Regions from separate parts of the Homo sapiens genome. Here regions 1, 2 and 3 are each linked to region 4. Evidence: fine-mapped expression QTL. A gene starts in region 4. Each other region holds a variant in brackets. All regions are shown on one strand. Distances are from middle to middle.

Region 1 (5,150 bases), 79 kb after region 4:
CTGGAGGCGGGGTTGTTCCTGTGAGAGAGTAAATCTCCTCCCCCAGGAAGCTCACATTTCTCTGGCGCTGAACTTGGTATAGCTATTTCTGAGCCAAGTAGATGCTTGTCATTCAGAACTGGGACAGTCATCTGAAATGTCTTCAGAGGCTGGGGCCACACAGCGGGAGCAGCTCAGTTCTTTTTCCCTTTCGTTTGCGAGTGTCTGTGCGTAAGCTCTGCCTGCTTGGGAGGAGCACTGTGTGTGGAGGTCGGTCTGGGGGAGGCGCGCAGATGGAACTCGGCCTGGCCGCTCAGGGAGTGTGAGAGTGGGTTTGGTTCCAGTGCACCGCGGCCTTGTAGTCAAGCCTGCAGGGAGGGGCCCTGCTGCCGCAGCCACAAACCTCAGACAAATAAGCCTTAAAGCCGGGAGGTATTTTAAAAATCTGTCTGTTTGTTTGAATCCCAAGGAAAGACATAACTCTTGGTTTTGTATTAGGAGACGTCACTTTCCCATTTTGTGCAAGCACACTGTTTCTCATAAGTCCTTTGGAGGTCCTTTATTAAATATACACACTCGGCTTCATTTAGTACATTATTTTATACCTCAGAACATGCACACTTCTGGAGTCTGGATTTTGGAAGTTCCTTTAGGTTCTTAGCAATTTGGAACTAGACAGTGATCAGTGACTGTCAAGGAGGAATCTGGGGATGGCTGGCAGTGGGCTGGGTGTGCCAGAATCTCAGTTTGGAGGTGCCTGGAGGTCTGAACATGCATATTCAATATAGCAATAGCAACTTTCTTTTCATAGTATAAGCCACAGAAACTAACATGCAACATATTTTTGGGCATGCAAATAAAAGAGAGCAAGAGAACGTTGTAGGAAGCATTGGGAAGCCCTGCTCTAATTCAGCTCCACAGACTATAAAGACGAAGGGCTCCAAGAGGGCAAGACAATTGTCCAAGGTTACAGCAAGCAGGAGAGCCCGGGTCTCTTGACCGTCATGCCAACCAGGGCTTTTTTCTCTAAGACGTGTTGATAATTTGTCATTTAGATACATTTGAGCACCCAGTATACATTATTTTAATGTTGCATATGTTATTTTATTTAAATTATCCTTAAAACTGTGGCATAGTTTTTATTTTCCTCCCTTTACAGTGGAGGAAATTGGCTTAGAGAGGTTACGCCATTTGCCCACGATCACGCAGCTAGTAAATGGCAGAGCTGAACATCAAATTAATGTCTCTTTAACCCCAGGACCCAGCTCCTTTTCACTATGCAATGAAGCAATCTCTGTCAGGTGCTCCAAAGATGTGCCTTGTCTGTGATTCTTCCCCCGATGTCCCATATGTGACCCCTGCAGCAGGCGCTATCCCATGGCCATGGTGACTTCCTCCTGCCGTCTTTTGCTTGGCTGTATCTCCTTTACCTGTCCTTCAAGTGAAGTCAGGTCCCACCCACCTCTTCCCCAGAGCCTTCTCTGATGCCTTGTTTGCATACTCTTCATTTTCATCTCTCATTTTCAATTAATCGATAACAAATTATTCTAGAATGACTTGAGTCGTGTCGATAAGTAGGCGGTCTGCTCCTTGAGGTTGTAGATCTCTCTTGACTTCTACGTGCAGCCCTGGGTGCATAGCTGGTATCGCTCAGTGCCAGTGACAATGTCCCTTTCCTTCCAGGTATGTGAGACTCTGTGAAGTAGTCGACCACGTTTTCCCGTTGCTGAAAAGAAGCCATTCTTCAGACTTTCCCTGTTCGGATACCTTCAGTAACTTCACCTTTTGGAGAGAGCCACTGCCACCTTTTGAAAACCAGGACATTCATTCTGCCTCAGCGTAAAATGTCCCAAGCAGCCTCTTGCCAGCAGTGCAGAGCCTGGTTGTCACCCATTAAAGGATAGGTCTCCCCGGAGTGCACAGCTCCACCTGGGAGCCTGGCGCGTCATCATTGGCCTGACAGCAGAGAGAATTGAGAAGCATTTCTCCCCTGCCCCACCCCGGGGCTGACATTTCTAAGCAAGATAGGAAGGGAGCACTTTCTAGGCTAGGAGTTGGGTGCATTTGTACCGTGAAAAGCATTCCTCAGTTGTGGCTTAATGCCAGTTACGACGCTGCCTTTCCGGCCTGCTCCAGCAAGTAGCTACTGGTTCACGTGCAGTTTGGGGCTGTGAAACCTAGGCAGAAGGCGGCTGTCTGAGGGCTGTCCCCGCCTAGGACAGGGTCAATCGAGGAATGCCAGATGTGCACGGTTTTTGGCAAAGTAGGGGGCACATTTCCATTATAGCAATGTTAGTGCCACCACCTTCTGAACACAGTGGGGAGGGCTGTGAAGGCTCATGTGACCTGGATCTGAGGTCTCTGATAGAAATCTGGACGCCACCGGGTCCAGGCCTGGCCTCAGACTTGGCCTTGTGGATGGGCCCCTTACAGTATTTGCTGACTAGTCTCATTTTTAGGTGATAA[A/G]TTTTTCTTTAATTCCTTTGGTTAAAGATAGTCTATTTCATTGGCATATCTCCCCCCAGTTTTTGTGGCTCAAGGCTGGAATATTTATGCCTTAATATATCTATGGCAGACATTTAAGAATGCGCTTTATCTAGCTCATGGTAACTTTGCAACGCCTTAGATTAAAATGACAGTAAATATTACTAAGGCAGTATTTTGAATGAGTTTGACACTGCCGGCTTCCTTCCATCCAGCGAGGTGGTGCTGACAGTGTGGACTTGAGCACACTTATGCCAAATGATAATGATACTGACTTCTGTTGGGAGCTCTCCAAAGAAACTGGTTGGTTTTAAGAAAATAGTTTCAAGAAGTTCAACTATATTCTTTTAGATATTATGTATTGTTTTACTCTGATTAGGTTACTGTGATAGGCATTTATTCATATTCTTTCTATACCACTGTCATTAATATATTAAAAAGATGTATGTGTTAGACTATCGAAAGGGCCTTATTCTCTCTTTCTCATAGACTGACCTTCTTTTGGAATTTCTGAGTCATTTATTTTCCTTAGCTTTTTCCACTCAAATTAAGGGCAAGCGAAAAAGTAATAATTTGGCATTCTTTAAGCCTACAGAATGTGATTCTTTCACTTGTTTATTACACTGGCTCGTGGACAGAACAATTTGAAAAGTGAAAGAATTATTTTGGTAAAAGATTTTGCTTTACTTTTCGAAGCATTATTTTTTTAAAGAGTGTTTTACTCCAACGATTGAAACATTTTCCTATTTAAATTTCATTGTTAGAATCACAGGAGGCAAAAAATGGAACGGTTGAATGAAATTTTACTCTTTCTGTGAAAGAAAATCCACAGAGTTGTTGCCTCCGTTGTAGTTGGTGGGCCCCGTTAGCATTGGATGCCTTTGCCAAATGGTTCATGTGGACACACAAAGGCAAACAGATCTGCCATCGATCGCAGATTTCTGTAGAAACACGGATGTGCATGTGCAGATTCCCTTTTGCAGGTATTAAAAATAATTAAAAATAGTCCTGCCTGAGGTTGCAGTGAGCCGAGCTTGCACTACTGCACTCCAGCCTGGGTGACAGAGTAAGACTCCATGTCAAAAAAAAAAAAAAAAAAAAAAAAGTCCTGCCTTAACTAACTCCTCTGCGCTTGTTCACTAGTAACCTAAAGAGGCTATATTCATTCTTTATGCAATGAGGGTATTTTTGAGTGAATTTTAACTGCTCTGAACTAAGTATAAGCTCATGGGCCTGCAAAGGTTCAGACGGTTTCTCCTTTGCACCCAGGAGGAACTTTGGCTGCGAGAATGGGGGGATGTATCCCTCATGCAGTTGGCATCCAGGCAGCCCTCTGCAGCAGCACACCCTGCAGGCGGAGTTTTCAGAGGATGCAATTTTGGATCCCGAATTTTGATGTACCTTAAACTTCCACATCACTGCACCCTGAAACAGAGCATGCTTTCCAGAAAGTCACACTCTCAGATCTGTGTCAAGTTCAATGTGAGCCCTGGCAAGGCTGGCATATTAACACCTGCCTTCTGGCTTCTGAAAGTGAGATTTGTATATGGGCTGCACTCACGCATATACGAGTTGGTTTATCTTTGTGTACATGACTATAACCCAGTGATGCTGAGGTCATGTGCTGGAATGCTGTATTTGGACCACACATTTCAAAGTTGCCCTATGGAAATGAATCCTACTTAGTGACAAGTCATCAAATGTTTGTCACATGTGATGAAGACAAATATGTATACCTGGCATAGAGAAAAATATATACCTGGTACATTGGAGAAAAATAATTACACTTTCAAAGAGAATTCCCTTTGCAATTTTATGTTTGGATCACCACTGTAAGCACACTTTATTTGCATTTGATCTGTATTTGTATATGCTGATGCAATGATAAAAATCACTGTAATACTTCATTGTGTTGTACTGGATGCAAAGCTAGAAAATATTGCAATAAATGAGACCGATGAAAGACTTCTCTGAAAATCAGGTGTGTGAATTTTAAATAGTTTTTGGTAAGTTACTAAGTTGTTGACTTTTCTGGGGTGTGTTATCAAGCATATTCTAAAAAAAATCTTCAGGCTATGAATTGTTCACTATTTGGAATAAATGTTTTTCCTGATGTTTTAGATTTAAATGGGTAAAAGACCAGCCTTCTCTATGCACTTGCTGGGGACGGGAGGGATGAAGAAAGAGAGGAGAAGGCTGCACCCGGGATCCCTCCCTGCCCTGGTGGGATGATTCAGGAGTAGGGAGGTTTCAATCAAGTGAATTTCATGAAGTGCCTCCCAGGGCCTGGCCTAGAATTGGTGTTTAGCACATGGGGGTTCCCCAGCCTCACAGCTGCTGTCCTCATTTTTTCGACTCTTCTCTGTGGTAAACCCCAGATTCATTTTTCATTTTGAATGAATCAAAATCCTTGACTAGTGCAATCATATAAGCTGAAAACTGTCATAATTCCTATTGATTTTACATGTCAACGTGGCTGGAAGCTTCCTATTGATTTACCTGCATCAGCCTAAGCGTTTTTGGAATAAATGGAAAAGTATTGGCCCCCTAAATGCAACATAGCCGGCCAGGATACTAGGCCCAATTCCTAATGAAGCCCAAATCCAAACGGTTCATCTCTAGGTGCCTGTAGAATTAATGCTTTTGCATCTTAAAAAACAAAACCTTCTAATTTTGTTGAACACCAT
Region 2 (5,150 bases), 650 kb before region 4:
GCAGCAAAGATGGAACTTTCTCACTGAGATTCTACTAACCTCGTTTTTAAAAAGCTTTAAGTGTGAGCCATTTTCCAAACTGAGATGGATACATCGGAGCTGCGCCCAAGCAGATCTTCAGCATTGCATTTGCCACACTGTTGCATAACTGTATCTTTCTGCATCTCTCTTCCATGTTAGCTTGAGCTCCGCAAGGGCAGGGGTAGCGTCTTGACACTGAATTCCAACAGGTGAACTTGCGCCTGATACAGGCAGTTAATCCAGTCTTGGTTTTTGAGCACCATCTATTACCAGGCACTGTTCCAGGTAGTGCATAAAACAAATGACCTGCTTTCACAGAGCTTACCTTTTAGTGGATGGAGATAAATAGGACAGATAAACAGGTGTACATGCAAGTATATACATGCAGAATGTCAGCTGATGGGTGATAAGTGCTGCAAAGGAATAAAAGGCAGGATGAGGGGCTAGAGGTTGATGAAGAAAGCTGCTGTCTCAGCTGGATCACTGGGAAAAACTCTCAAGAGGTGACATTGTGCCAGCGACCTGAATGCAGTGAGGGAGCCATGTGGGCTTGTTGAAAAAGAGAATTCCAGGCAGAGGAACAGCAGGTGCAAAGGCACTATGGCAGAAGTCTGCCTGAAATGTTCAAAGGCAGCACGAAGGCCAGTGTGCCTGGAGAAGCATGAATGGGGGAGGCGGTGGGAAATAAGGCCAGAGGGGACGTCAGGGCCACAGTCAGAATGTAGGCTTTACTGATGAACATGGATGTCATTGTCCACTTTTGAGTGAAGGAGAAGCATAATTCAACCTGCATTTACTTTTTTATTTTTCTTTTTTTGAGACAGTCTCACTCTCTCCACCAGGCTGGAGTGCAGTGGCATGATCTCAGCTCACTGCAACCTCTGCTTCCCGGGTTCAAGCAATTCTCATGCCTCAGCCTCCTGAGTAGCTAGGATTACAGGTGTGTGCCACCACACCCAGCTAATTTCTGTATTCTTAGTAGAGACGAGGTTTCGCCATGTTGGCCAGCATGGTCTCGAACTCCTGACCTCAAGTGATCCACCCGCCTCGGCTTCCCAAAGTGCTGGGATTACAGGTATGAGCCACTGCATCCAGCCTCAACTTGCATTTTAAAATAAGCATTTCGGCTGGGCAGGGTGGCTCACGTCTGTAATCCCAGCACTTTGGGAGGCCAAGGTGGGTGGATCACCTGAGGTCAGGAATTCAAGACCAGATTAGCTAACATGGTGAAACTCTACCTCTACTAAAAATATAAAAATTAGCTGGGCATGGTGGCACATGCCTGTAGTCCCAGCTACACAGGGGGCTGAGGAAGGAGAATCGCTTGAACCCAGGAAGCGGAGGTTGCAGTGAGCCATGATCACGCCATTGCACTCCAGCCTGGGTGACAGAGAAAGACTCCATCTCAAAAAAAAATAAAATAAAATAACCATTTTGGCTTTACCTCCAGAATACTTTGGGAGTAAGCATGTGAGGAGACAGCCTGGGGGTGGGGGTGGGGGTGAGGGTGGAGGTGGGGGTGGGGGTGAGGGTGGGGGTGCTGCACCACTTCTGAGAAGCACCTCTCGTTGGGGTGGGGTGGCACCGTGGCTAACAAGCAGACCTGGAAGCCAGGCTCCCCGGGTCCCAGCCAGAGCTGTGACCTTGGACACGTTGCTTAGCCTTTTTGTGCCCCATCTGACTCACCATAAAGTGGGGATCATAACATTACCTTCCTCGGTGGTTCTCCAAGTGTGGCCTTGGCCAGCAGCATCGGCATCACCCGAGAACTTACTGGAAATACAAATCCTCAAGCCCCAGCACAGACCTGCCATTTCAGAAACCCGGGGGGTAGAGCTGCCAGACAAACTACAGGTCATCCGCTAAATTTGAATTTCAGACAGATGATTAATATTATCCACGCAATATTTGGGTCATGCTTATATTAAATGATAATTCATTATCTGAAATTCAAATTTAATCGGATGTCCTGAATGTTTGTTTGTTAAGTTTGGCAGCCCTGTCTGGGGGCACCCTGCAATCTGCATTTTAAAGGGTCCTCCAGGTGATGCTGGTGGCTGCATCACGTGGAGGTTTCAGAGCATGGACCCTCCTCGTGGGTGGTGCTGGAGGCCTCCGAGCTTAGCACAGTGCCTGGCTTGCGACCAGTGCTGGAAGTGGCCACCATTCCACCGAGCACTCACCGATGCCAGGGAACTGAGTGCCTTGGCGGAGGCCCACCGGGGGTGTGGTCTCTTCTCCAGGAAGGTTCTTATTCTGCATGGGTTGATTTTCAAAGTACACCAACTTGATTACCTGAAATCATCCTACTCCCTCCCTCTGATGGGCATAGGAAGCGAGTACCCATCCTCCCTGTGGCTCAGGAGTTTGAAATTTCTCTAATTGAGTAACCAAGAAGGAATGAAGTCTAAAATCTAGCTGACTCATGACACTGCAGAGAGAGTAGGTTTCTGCTTCTGGATTGCTCTGGTCAGTTTTGCTGAGCACTTGGACT[G/C]ACGGGGCCTAAAGGAGTCACTCTTGTAAATGTTAACTCAGTGGTCAGAACAGAAGGCTGAGGTGTTTTTGTGAAGACAGCGAGGAAAACACACTTCCTGGCTTCCCTGGAAATAACAGACACGTATGTCCTAATTATTTATTAAATGAATGAATAATTTGTGTTCATCCTATCATCACCCAACCCATTGGTGTCAAAGAATGATGCCAACCTGTTATATCAATAGAGTTAGAAATTTTATGTGAAATCATCATCCTGAGTAACTGTCAGGAATATCTGAAAAATACTAATTATCATGTTAGATTGGCCCTGGGAGATAAACACGGAACTTAAGAATCTAGTAATGTACAGAGCTCACCCCAGCCTCACTCACAAACAAATACCTTCTCAAGATGCCACCGTGTCCTCAGAACTCGATGTGTTCACACACGTGGCTTGTTCCCTAGCAGCAACTTCACATTCAAGCAGAATTCAAGCAGAGGCCTGAAATTAAAACGTCTCCATTTTTCTTTAACCAAATGGTAGTTCTAATTATAGCATTCAGACTGGCGTGCATGTTTATTTGCTCATCTCTCGCTTTATTAAGAGTTAGTGCATTGTACCTTAAAAATGGGTGACAAATTATTACAATGTGTTCTGGGCTGTCGATGATTAGAACAGGTGGTTAAGGAGGCTTGGGGTGTTATCCATTTCTATAATTATGTCATCGTGTTACATTTAATGTTCGTGACCAGGACGCAGGGAATGCAACCTTCAGTCTCAATCCCATCGGAAAAGGAAGCAGTCTCTTCCATGGAAGCACGTGGCCTCCTGAAAACCCTGAAGGGCAGGTGCTGGGAGCCCCCAGTTCTGGTCCTCGTGCTGCCCTAACTGGCTGGTGACCCCAGAGAAGCCATTGCAAACCTGGCCAACTCCTCTTTCGTGAGCCTTTATCTGTCTTCCTAATTTAGCAAATAACAGTGCTCAATAAATATAGTGTCAAATATAGTGTGTCAATATAAAGTGTGTCAAATAAAGTGTGTCAATAAACAAAGTAATTGATGAAAATCACTCAGTCCCACTTCTGAATTTTCCTTTGTTTGTTTGTTTGTTTGTTTGTTTTTTCTGAGACCTGGTTTCTTTCTGTTCCCTGGGCTGGAGTGCAGTGGCACAATCTTGGCTCATTGCAGCCTCTGCCTCCCAGGTCCAAGTGATTCTCGTGCCTCAGCCTCCCGAGTAGCTGGGATTACAGGTGCACACCATCACACTCGATTAATTTTTGTATTTTTAGTAGAGACAGGATCTTGCCATGTTGGCCAGGCTGGTCTTGAACTCCTGACCTCAAGTGATCCACCTGCCTTGGCCTCCCAAAGTGTTGTGACTATAGGTGTGAGCCACTGTGCCCAGCCAGAGACTCTTGTTTTTTGTTTTTTGTTTTTTTTTTGGCTTTGTTTTGTTTTGTTTTGTTTTGTTTTTTTAAAAAGAAAGAAAAGAAAAAGAAAGAAAGAAAAGAGGCCAGTAGCCTGGTCAGAATTTTCTTTTCTGACAGCATGCCTCCTATTAGGTGGCCTCACAGGGATAATATCCCTGTTACAGAAGCACAGAATTCAAATCCTGCACCCCTTGTGTAAGGCACGGCTGCATGAACTAAAGAAAATTACTACATCTCCCAGAGCCTCAGTTTGCCTACTTGTCAAATGGGATACAATAACATTTACTGGCCATGGCTGCTGGGAAAATTAAGTGAGGTGACGCATGCAGAGCACACGGTGGCAGTAGGTGCTCAACAGATGATGGTCCTCAGGATTCAGCTGGTGCCCTTCCCATTCTTCACCTAGTCAATGGTTGTTGAGTTCACTCAAAGCCATCAGACATCCACAGTCCGTCTGGCCTGGCCTTTCCTGCTATGTCATGGCACACAGAGAGCCCATTGTCACTGTCACACCCAACTGTCCTTGTTTCTTTGTCACAATGTCCATCATCCCCTGGCTAGTGCTTGGGCAGAAATGGTGGCTCTCTTGCCAGCCTAGTGCCCCTGGCACTGACATGGCAGCTGACGTTCCGTCCCCCAAGTCGCATCCCCCCATCAGCTCAGTGGCACACTTCTCCCCAGTAGGGCTTCAAGGAAGAATCTGGAAAGGCTCTTGTCTGAAACTCAGGAGAAATTCTCTTGGCGCTGGAAAAGCCCAGTGCTGCTCAAAATCATGCGCCTTTCCTTTCCTGGGGAGGAGCACCCACTTCTGCAGAAAGTCCTGGAGCCGCAGGGTCCTCAAAGGACCTCTTCTTGCAAGAGCCAGTTCACGCTCCAGCCTTGGCACATCAAGGGCTGCTGCCTGTGCCGCCTGGCTCTACCCCACTCTTCCTCACCACCTGCCTGGCGGGAAGGCTCCGTCCTCCCATTTGTCTTCCTGGTGGCTGAGATTTTCTCCACTCCACATCTTTCTCCTTCCAGGAGCAGGATCTTCCCTAACCCTGCCTCCAAGTCCAGATGGCAGTCAGGGATCAGGATTTAAGGAACAATTAACACCCAGTGTGATGATTTCAGATCCTGCTCCCATGACCTCCACATCCCCTAAACTGTATGGCTGCATGATCTAAACAAAATCACTAAATTTCCCAGAGCCTCGGTTTGCCTACCTGTTCAATGGGATGCAAT
Region 3 (5,150 bases), 32 kb after region 4:
AGTCTTTATAAACTCCATTATGTATTTCACATGCGCAGAACATCCCAATTTGGACAAGCCACGTTTCAAGTGCTCAGGAGCCACCTGTAGCTGGTGGTTTATTATATTGGACAGTGCAGATATAAGACCTTTCTAGATTCTCATTCTTTCTCTAGGTCTGTGGAGATAAAATAGTGGAGGGAAAAATAGTGGTTTAGGAGGAAAATAATGTAGAATATTTAGAACCCAATAATAGATGAAAAAATCTGTTCAAGCACTGTATGTTAATTTTAAGGATTTAAAAGAAACACTTTAAACACAACTCTGAGCGTGTTTAATGCTCAAAACATCTGTAATGTTTTGCCTCATGAATGCAGCATAATGACTGAGTCAGGTTATGTAGCTCTGACTATCACCAAATGGAATGACAAATTAGGATAAATAGCTACATTTCCACATTTGGAATTAGGTATTTTCTGTAAAGAGACAATTGACAGCACACACGAGCACATTTTTGGATTATGTAGTTTGATTAAGCACGAAAGTGTGACCAGAGATGATCAGTTCTACACATGGGTGAAACAGAAAGTGAAATAGGTCATTTGGCAGTTTCCTGCTTTTGTGTCTCAGAAAATTCATGCTGATTTCTTAGCAATTTCAATATCCGGTGCTCTGCCATTATCAGATGTCTGAGTTTCTTTATTTTCTTAAAAATGTCGTTGTTGAGAGTAGTCAAATACTTTACGTAATATATATAATCTTTATATAAAGTATATATACTTTGTAATTATATATAATCTTATATATAATCTTTATATAAAGTATATTATATATACTTTATATAATCTTATATATAGTCTTTAAAGTATATTATATATACTTTATATAATCTTATATATAATCTTTATATAAAGTATATTACATATACTTTATATAATCTCACTTGATGTAATTGACCTCTGATTTTGTCTTTCTTTTAATGTGTATCACGTGGTGGTATCCAGTAGCCTGGTAGATTGCAAAAGGACTGCCCCTCATCTTGCAGTTGCGGCCGAGGGAGGTCTGTCTAGTTCTTGCCCTCCACAGTCTTCCCTGTTCCATCCTTCGGAAAGGTAGAGGAGTTATTTTCCCCATTGGGATATATTCAATAATGAAAAATTTGATCTAACTCTTACTATAAGTCTATTTTACCATTAACCAAATTACTTATGAAGAAAATACCTGTAGATTATATGAAGTGAAAATTTTGATTTAACTTTTACAAATCGATTTCACTAACCAAATTACTTATGAAAAATATGTATATAGATTACTCTTTTCCTTTCGTTATAAGCATTTGTAGATGATCAGATTTTTTTTTTTTTTTAATTCCTAAATTTGACTCTCTGGAAATTATGGTTAAGCATATAATTTTACCTAATTCTGTGAAGTGCTTTGAAAATGAGAATAATGAAATATAGCTTGGGAATATGATCTTCTGTTTTCTGTCTCGGGTTGTTTGACAAATAAGTTTACAAGATATTTTTGGAATACCACTTTAATTTATTATAAACATTTAAGTAGTTTATTGGGCTGTCTGAATAATGGAGTCAGACACTTTCCACAGCATTTCTAGAACAGAATCTTGGAGAATGGCCTGGGCTGGGTCTCAGGCTGAGGATCAAAGGTTGGTGTGTTCACTCGATGTAGTCATCTCAGATTTCTGCCTTCATTCCCTCAGTTTTGACCTACCTACTTTGTGGACTTACATGGTTTACTTTGTAAGCCTTAGCAAATGAAGCTACGATTAATTTGTACGTGGAAAACCTTTTGTCTTTTTGATTAAAGATCCAGACCTCAGGATGTACTTCATTCAGAGGCTACATTTGCAGAAGAAAAGTCCGTTTAAAATGAGGAAAACAAAGTTGTTAATAGTTAAAACTAACTAGCCTTATTGGGACTGGCAAAAATACTGAAAACTTTGATAAGGCTAATAAATACCTTGTTTATGAACATCAGTCATTGACCTTGTAAGCTTACTTTTTTGAACAACCCTTGATCTTAAAATAATAATATTTCATGACGGAGCACTTTGGAGTCATCTTTCTGGTAAATCCCACTTGGCAGTGGGCCCCATTCCTGCGTCCTTTTTGGTCTGTCTGAATTCCCTCAGTGACGGTCGGCAGAAAGCGCATCTGTGTTTGTGCACGAGACCTTTGGAGAAGGGTTGCTGTGGCCTGAACGGGCAGCATTTATGGTGGTGGCCTGTTTGCTGTTGGGGAGGGACTTGCAGCAGACTTTCTCGTAGGGCTGGGCTCCTTATGCGTGAGTTGCACGCCTGAGTGCCTCTATGGGTTTTGTGGCTCGTGGCTTTTATGAAGGGACCAGAATGTTAGGAACTCTGGAGTTGGGAATTGCTGCAGGAGAACCGTGTTCCGCATTTCGTTCTTCTAGAGCAGAGGTTGGTAAAGCACGGCCCATGGGTCAAATCTGGTCCACCATCTGCCTCTGTCAGACTTTCCCGGGCATAGGCAGTTGGTTTACATACTGGCTGTGGCTGCTTTCACACCACCACAGCAGCGAGTGGTTGCGACAGACGTCGTAAAACCCGTAAAGCCCGAGATATCTGCCACTGGGCTCTTTACAGAAAATGTTTGCCGACCCCTGTTCGGAGCAAGCTTTGTCTAAAGGACTTTATTTCATTTAGTGACAGTGAGA[T/C]AATTTATTGCTGCAAAGAACTTATAGCCAAATATGTTCTATTTTGTCTGGTGAAACAGAATGGCAAGAGCTTTTTAGATACTTTGAGGTTTGGGAACAGCACCGTTGAGGGTGAGAAGTTGGTTTTGATGGACTTATTCCATGATGATGCTGGAGAAAGAGTGGATTGCGGTCACACTTGTAGGTACTGAGGCCCCTCGCTGGAGGCCACAGCCTGCGCTTTTCCCATTGCAGTGATACCGAACACGTGACTGTAGACGCTTCAGTGCCACCAAAGCGTTGTCTCTTTGGAGAAGTCCAGTTGTGGAACTGGAAGAGCAAGGAGGTTGAAAGGCCAGGAGCCTTTCCCACATGGACGTGGGGGGGCCCACGTGCCTTCTTATAGGACTGCTCCCTAAAGGGCAGAAATGTGTGTCTGTTGGGAGCAGGGTGTCCCATTGCAGAAGCTCTCCTAATGTGATGTCAGGAGCCTCCTCTCCCCAGGCAGGCGAAAGAGAGCGTGCAGGCTGCCCCGTGGCAGCACGTCATTAGAAGGGCTGGGAGTCATGGGCACCAAGGGAGCAGGGACCACCCTCTGCCCCTTGGTGTGAGATGAGAGAGATGGCACTTGGTCTGGCTGCTCTATGCAGCTTGATCAAAGAGATTCAGGATCAGTTTAGCCCACAAGGTCCCTGTTTGTTGGATACAAGTTATGTATCATCATGAACTCACCTTGTATTGACAGGAAAGTTATATTCAATTGGAGTTGAACTCTAGGTAAATGAGACCAGAAGCATCAGTTTCCGAAGAATAGATAAGGTCTGGGAAAGAAGACGGCAAGGGAAACTGAAAGCTTTATTTCCTGCTTTGTCTGAAAAACCCTGCCGCCTTCCTCTAGAGGAAATGATGTGGGAAAATAAGCAATAATTAACCATGTTATTATGCGGCAATAAATAATTACAAGAATTGCTGCTGTAAATAATATTTCTCTAAGTTGTTTAGAATATGGTGAGGATCTTGTGGATAAGTTAATGACTTTTGGATGGTTACTTTGGCTGGGCAGAAGTAAGACCTTGTTTGGGTCTTCAGAGTAAAAATTCAGGAAACATGGAGGTGGTTACTGAGCGAGCCTTAACCAGTTGGTGAGTCCCTTGTGAAGTATTCCTGGAAGACATAAGATCTTAGAAAATTTCAACTTGTAGGCTCCTGCCCAACGTTATCGAGTTTATTTGTGGCATCCAGCATCTTTGGTAAAATTGGCACATCATATAATTTCCCTGTTTCCCAGGCCAGTGCAGATGATAAATATTTAAAATATGGACTCTAATGAGTGCCTGCCCGAGCCAACCAAGACCCTTTTGCAGCCCTCTGACAGCAGAGGAACTTGATTTGGAAACAGATTGCAGGAGATGCGAGTGCAGAGTGGGGTGGGGAAGGGTGGTCTTTTTGAGGTAAGAACAGACTATTTTTCCCTTTCTCTTTCCATCTCTTTCTTTTGTATTCTGGGCCACTTCTTTTTCTCCTCTCCCCCGCGGTGCACCAGGCGGCAGGGTGGGGCGGGCGACCCACGTGGAGCGCCTTCCATGGGAGGCGCTTCCCTGCCCCCTGGTGGCCGGAGGAGGGATTTGTCATGAGGCTCCGCTCAGAGCGAACGACAGCTGGGGGTGCATTTTCTGGGCTATTTGAGCCATGGAGCTGGGCCCAAAACATTTACAAAAGTTTCTTTTCCCACCTTAATTTTCGCTTTGTGTTTTCCTTAAGTCCTTCCGGTTCCCGACCTTCAACACCTAAAAGTGATTCAGAATTGGTCAGCAAGTCCACGGAAAGGACAGGGCAGAAGAACCCAGAAATGCTTTGGCTGTGGGGAGAGCTGCCGCAGGCTGCTAAGGTGAGAGTCTCTTCAATTCTGCCACGGACCGAAGATTTCTAACTCAGCTTAAATTACATGGAATTAGTATCATAGCATAGCCAAGAAACACAGCTACCAGGAGCCAGAGGTAAACCAAAATATATTAAGGGTTAGCCTTGAATGTTGGAATTACTTTCTTCCACGTTACCAACATTATAGAGAGGTCTCATTGCTTTTGTAGATTTTAAACCTATGGGATTCCTCTTAGGATTTACTTTTTTTTTTTTTTCTTGAGACAGAGTCTCACTCTGTCACCCGGGCTGGAGGGCAATGGCTCTATCTTGGCTCACTGCAACCTCTGCCTCCCAGGTTCAAGCGATTCTCCTGCTTCAGCCTCCCGAGTAGCTGGGATTACAGGCGCATGCCACCACGCCCCACTAATTTTTGTATTTTTAGTAGAGACGGGGTTTCACCGTGTTGGCCAGGCTGGTCTTGAACTGCTGACCTCAAGTGACCCGCCTGCCTCTGCCTCCCAAAGTGCTGGGATTATAAGCGTGAGCTGCCGTGCCCAGCCAGGATCTACATTTTCTATCACAGCTAAATGCAAATTAAATTAAAGAAATACAACTTACACACAATCTTGCTG
Region 4 (5,150 bases):
TGGCCCCTGGTTCCCACCTGGTTCTTAAGAGAGTGCGCAGGACAAAGTCACCTCGTGAGGGGCCCCCAACCAAGGAGTGGCCTTAGACCCCGAGGAGATGCCCTCCCTTCCCCGGAGCCCCAGGCACTGGTGCCAGGGATAAAAGTCTGCACCTCTAGGGGAAGAATTCATTGTCCTCTCTTTGGGATCCTTTCTGCCCGGGCAGTTACAGAGCTAACCATGCTCAGAGTCCTGGGGGATCAGCCAGTGTTTCTCCTTCCTACAGTAGCTCGCAGGGCACCCGTGAAGAGGGATGCTCATTCTTCCCGCCTACCTTGCCCCAGGTATTCTGGGCCTGTGTAGGTGGTTGATCTGGACAACTTCAGAGTTCTCGGGATACAACAGCTACTGTCACCAGCTGGGCTCAGCAGTGAACAGATCCTTCTGGGAATGGCCACTCCTCAACTTATGGGGTTTTAGAATTGAAAAATCTTCCAACCCCACAACTGTGACAGCAGCTTCCCATGATGCCTTTTTCATCCTCAAAGCAGATCTGTGTCATGTGCACCTGCAGCCCATTTCCTGGATTGTGAAACTGAGCCTCTAGAATCAGGATGCTTGTGCTGGCTTTGCTAAGGCATTACTCAGCCCCTCCTTCCTCCTCCAGTCAGCTAGAGCAAGATTACTCATCCCTGGAGTTCCTTCTCCTCTTCCGAGTGCAGCTAGGTCCTGGGATTGGCCAGGGGGATCGCCTCAGCTCTCCTGGCTGAGTCACTGCTCAGTCAGGCCTGGTTGCTGATAGCACAGCCAAGGGCCCTCCCAGGGGGACTCCAGCCAGTGCCTGATCAAAAGCGCCAGGGCTTTGGAAAGTCCGGTTTCGTTTATCGCCTGGGAGTGCACTGTGATCTAGTGAGTGTTTTCTTCTCATTGCTTGTTTATACAAAAGGCTCCCCCCAACCCTTGGCCTTCCCCGAGGTGGTAGGCTGGGCAGCAGCGGGACCTAATTTGCTCTGAATCCAGCCAGACCCTGCTCATCAGAGCTGACCCTAGCCGTGCTGGGCCCCCCAGCTCATCATTTTCAGAATGAGGGCTTTGAGTTGAATTGTCCTATATTTTCAGACCTCCCATCTCCACATTTGAATAATGGACTTATTTTACACAAAAAATAAACTTAAGTGGCCTGAAGTTGGACTGGCTTCCTGGAAAGCCTTTCCACATAGAGTAGACTTCTTCCCAGGCCAGCTCCTCCCTGGAGGTGGGAGGGGAGGGTGCAGGAGGGCTTCCTTCTGGGGCCTTGCAACCTCAGCAGTTTTGGGCAGCCGTGATGCACTTGAAACTCTGGTCTCTGAGAAAACCCCTGTGGAGGTAGCTCACCTACAAACTGCAAGATTCTCTTTGTGTAGCTCCCACGTCTGCAATGTCAGCATGGGACAGGCTGCCTAGATAGGAGCTGCCCCAAGCCCAGCGGGAGCGTGTCCACACTTGACCAGATGGACGGGAGCCGCGCCCCTGGACAAAGCTCTCCAAGCAGCTGTCCCCAAACATCTATCTCAAGCTTGCTGGCTTATCCAATTCACTAAGCTGCCGCATTCGATGCTGTTTCTAAGCTGGCCTCCTCCCTGGCCCTCTGCATCTCAGCAGAGCAGCGGTTCCATCTCCACACTGAGACTTGCCTTTGAGTATCGCATCACACACCTCCACCGGTTCCATTCATCAGTAAGCCTGTGGGTTTTGCCTCCAAATCTCTCTGAAGTCCTTCCGCTTCTTGCTGAGTAGCCCCTGTAATCTGAGCCACCATCATGTCCCCCGGTTTCCTGCAGTGCCACCTGTCTGCTGGCTTCTACTCCTGCAGTCCATTTTCCATGGAGTGGAGGGGTGACTTTTTAAAGAAGTAAATTAGATCATATAATTCCCAGGTTTAAAATTCTTTTTGGACCAGGCGTGGTGGTTCACACCTGTAATCTCAGCACTTTGGGAAGCCAAGGTGGGAAGACTGCTTGAGCCCAGCAGTTTGAGACCAGCCTGGGCAACATAGGGAGACCTGGTCTCTACAAATAGTTTGAAAAATTAGCTGGGCGTGGTGGCATGCACCTGTGGTCCCAGCTACTTGAGAGGCTGAGGCAGGAGGATTGCCTGAGGCCAGAAGGTGAAGGCTGCAGTGAACCGAGATTGTGCCACTGCACTGTAGCTTGGGTGACAGAGTGGGACCCTGTCTCAAAAAGAATTGGTTTGGAATAACATTTAAATAATACCTAAACTCCTTGCCTTGGCCTACAAGACCTGAATATTTGGCCCCTGCCTTCCCTCCAGCCCACAGCACCGGCCCCAGGACCTTTGCACCTGCCATTTCTGCTCTCCAGAAAGCCCTGCCTCCTCCCCATCTTTGTAGTCATAGGTGTTTCTTGTCATTTAGAGTTTCAGTTCAAATATGACACCCTCCCATTGATGGAAATCATTTCACCACCAGACGTTATGTGGCTCATTGTTTATCCGCTGCCTGCCTCCCGGCTGGAGAGGCGCAGGGAGCTGCCTGTCCCTCCTGTTCAGAGCCACCGTTCCGCACCTGGACCACCGCTTGGCAGAGGCGGGAGTGGAGGCTGTCACCATCAGGATGAAGGACAGGGGTGGCCCGGCGTGGAGAAGCTAAGAAGAGATGGCGATAGGTCAACGCGATTGCGCCTTTAAGGTGGAAGAAACGAAGGGCGAGGGTCAGTAAAGTCAAGGACGGGCTCAGATCCCGCCACTGGTGATAAGCGGGACCCATAGGACCGACGTGATCGCGGCCAGGCCCTGGGTGGTTTACCTGGACTTTTACCTGGCTGCCTTTTCTCTGCACCCCTCCGTCCTCACTCCCCCAGTCATCGGCATAGGTCAAGTCAGAGTGTTGAAGAAACACACGAGTTTGGCTCTGGAAAGGAAAATCAGAAAGGCGGCCTAAGGGGCCCCACCCCCAGGAACGCTAAGATAGGCGGCCAGGGGTGAGCGGGCAGGGCCGGCCAGCAGGCCCTGAAAGCAGCCGGGCCACCAGCGCGTCCCGAGTCCCCCTCGCACCGCCCCGCTTGCCCCGCCCCTGCCCTCTGCCCCCGCCCCTGCCCCGCCCCCGAAGGCGAGCTGCGCTGACAGCCGGCGGCGGGCTGGGTGTTTGCAATACAAAGGCGGCCACGCGCGGCGCCGCTCGGTGAGTAGCCGCCGCCTCCAGCCTCCCGCTGTGGAGCAGGGGCCGCAGCCTCGGGTTAGGCGGGGCGGGGCGCGGCGCCGGGGCGCTGAGGACGCGTGGCGAGGCGGGGGCTCGGCCCCGGGGCCCGAGGACCGACGGCCGGGCTACGTCCCCGGGGCCCTCTACGGGAAGTGGTTCGGGGGAGGGAGGCGGGGAAACAGGCCCCGGAGGCCGGGAGGGCCTCGCGAGCATCCCTCGGGCCTGGCTTTCCTGACGCGCCGCGAGGCCCGGTGTGGGCCCGGCTTGGCTGATCTCGAGCGGCGTAGGGGCCACTGGGGGCTGCCGCGCAGTCCCAGAACCGCGGGGACTAGCTCCAGCCGGCCAGCGCGGGTGCGTCCTGGCTCTGCGCGATCATCCCCAGCTTTGCGCCGGGGACTGGGATGAGAGCCTTTCTTTCCCCCGGAGTTAGGATTCCAGCGCTGCAGTTGAGGAAACTGAGGCTCAGGGAGGTTGACCTCTGTGCCCAAGGTCATACAGTTGCCGGGCGGCAGGGCAGGCTGAGCCCAGGTTGGAATCCCGGTTCTCATATTACAGCTCTCCCCTGCGAGGCCTCTGCACCTTTCTTGCAGCCTAGGAGGTGCTAGGCCTAGTGAGCTCCGTCAGCTGCTCCTGCACGTAATTTTATTATGGGCAAGGCCAGGAAAATGCAGGATGAGAAGTAACGTTTTGGGAGTAACTTAAGTGCTGTGGAGCTAGAGTAGGTAATTTGTGTGGTCAGTAGTTGCTGGAGAAAGCAGATGTCAACCCTGTTTTTGATCAGCAAGCAGGAAACCAACTAAGACAACTGGCAGTATTAATTTGGAGATGTTTTAGAACCCGGCAGTTTCCCACAGGATAGAAGTGTTTTGGGAAATCAAAGCTTGTAGCCGTTTTTTTAATTGGGGGTGTTGTGGTATGGTGGTCTAGGGGTAGTGATTGTGAGATTGACTGTTTATCCTTTGTTCCGTAATTTGGGTCTTATTAATGAAAGTAAGCAGTTGAGGAATGTATAGTATTTGAGAAATAAGCACATCCACACATGAACACTTTTCTTGCTCCCAGATTCTTGTTGAAAGGTGTAACAGTTGGATTTATGATTATATACTTTGATAGCACTTCACGTTTGCCAGCATTTGTTATTGAGTGTTTTTGTGCATGGGTTGTGTGTTTTGGCGCTTATTATTCCTATTTGCATGTGGGGCCCTGTGGTCCTGTGGAGCCAGGCCTGGATATAGCCCTGGACTCGGGTCGGGAGGTCTGGGCTCTGCCTGAGCTCTGTGGGACCCTGAGCGAGTTCTTTCACCCACCCAGGTCTCGCTTATCAGCAGTTCCTTTCTTTTAGAAAAGCACAGGGGGACAAGGGGCGGACCTGCTGAGTCTTGTGGTGTGGGAGAGAACGCGAGGGTTCAGGTGAGAGACCGCAGGGATTCCTGGTTGTAGGGGGGACCTTGGAAGTGACTGAGAAGGAGCCTGCCCTGGATTAGGTGGGGACAATTGGCCTGGCCCAGCCAGAAGGAAGTCTGTGGGTCCTGCTCTCCTGCTCTTTGCGTGGTCAGCTGCACAAAGGGCCCAGAACAGACGGCAGGGGAGGGTCAGGAGATGAAAAGATATTTCAGAAGAAGGTCCTGAGGCCACCGTGGTCTGAGATGCGCCGAGGCCGGCACAGAGCACTGGGCTTTGCAGTTGTTGTTCTGACCACTCACAGATGTAGAACTTGGGCAGAAGACTTCAATCCTCTGAGCCTCAGTTTTCCCATCTGTAAAATGAAGGGATAATCATACCCATTCACAGGATTGTTGCAAAAATTAATTGAGATAAAAAAGAGCCCCTGGAACATAATATGGGGTCCACGAATCATTGTGGTTGTTATGATTTTAAAGTGCCACAGGGTGCCAGCGAGGAGGGGCTCTTTGTGGGGTTGGGACAGTCCTGGCTGACGCCGGCCTCTGCTCTGTAAATCATCCCTGTGGGACAC

Evidence for each region. PIP is the estimated chance that this variant, and not a neighbour inherited with it, causes the effect.
Region 1: its variant is fine-mapped to the expression of LPIN1 in whole blood (INTERVAL, PIP above 0.99).
Region 2: its variant is fine-mapped to the expression of LPIN1 in anterior cingulate cortex (GTEx, PIP 0.96).
Region 3: its variant is fine-mapped to the expression of LPIN1 in whole blood (INTERVAL, PIP above 0.99).

What each region holds. Positions count from the first base shown.
Region 1 is chr2:11,822,970-11,828,119 of GRCh38, forward strand. LPIN1 (lipin 1) reads left to right here. Exons shown (of 21, transcript NM_001349206.2): 21 at 1,663-4,440. The coding sequence ends at 1,822. Among named protein-coding and RNA genes, the nearest start is that of MIR4262, 11 kb to the right of the region's middle. RefSeq lists an enhancer at 4,715-4,824. The variant A/G (reference allele first, on the strand shown) is at 2,446.
Region 2 is chr2:11,095,062-11,100,211 of GRCh38, forward strand. It overlaps FLJ33534 (Putative uncharacterized protein FLJ33534), which reads right to left. Exons shown (of 9, transcript NR_040080.1): 9 at 4,790-5,002. Among named protein-coding and RNA genes, the nearest start is that of FLJ33534, 35 kb to the right of the region's middle. The variant G/C (reference allele first, on the strand shown) is at 2,516.
Region 3 is chr2:11,775,103-11,780,252 of GRCh38, forward strand. LPIN1 (lipin 1) reads left to right here. Exons shown (of 21, transcript NM_001349206.2): 6 at 984-1,091; 7 at 4,417-4,543. Among named protein-coding and RNA genes, the nearest start is that of MIR548S, 10 kb to the left of the region's middle. RefSeq lists an enhancer at 3,826-5,025. The variant T/C (reference allele first, on the strand shown) is at 2,677.
Region 4 is chr2:11,743,515-11,748,664 of GRCh38, forward strand. LPIN1 (lipin 1) reads left to right here and starts at 3,118. Exons shown (of 21, transcript NM_001349206.2): 1 at 3,118-3,157. LOC124907735 (a long non-coding RNA gene) reads right to left here and starts at 1,945. Exons shown (of 2, transcript XR_007086220.1): 1 at 314-1,945. RefSeq lists enhancers at 1,285-1,858, 4,370-5,041 and a silencer at 2,797-3,366.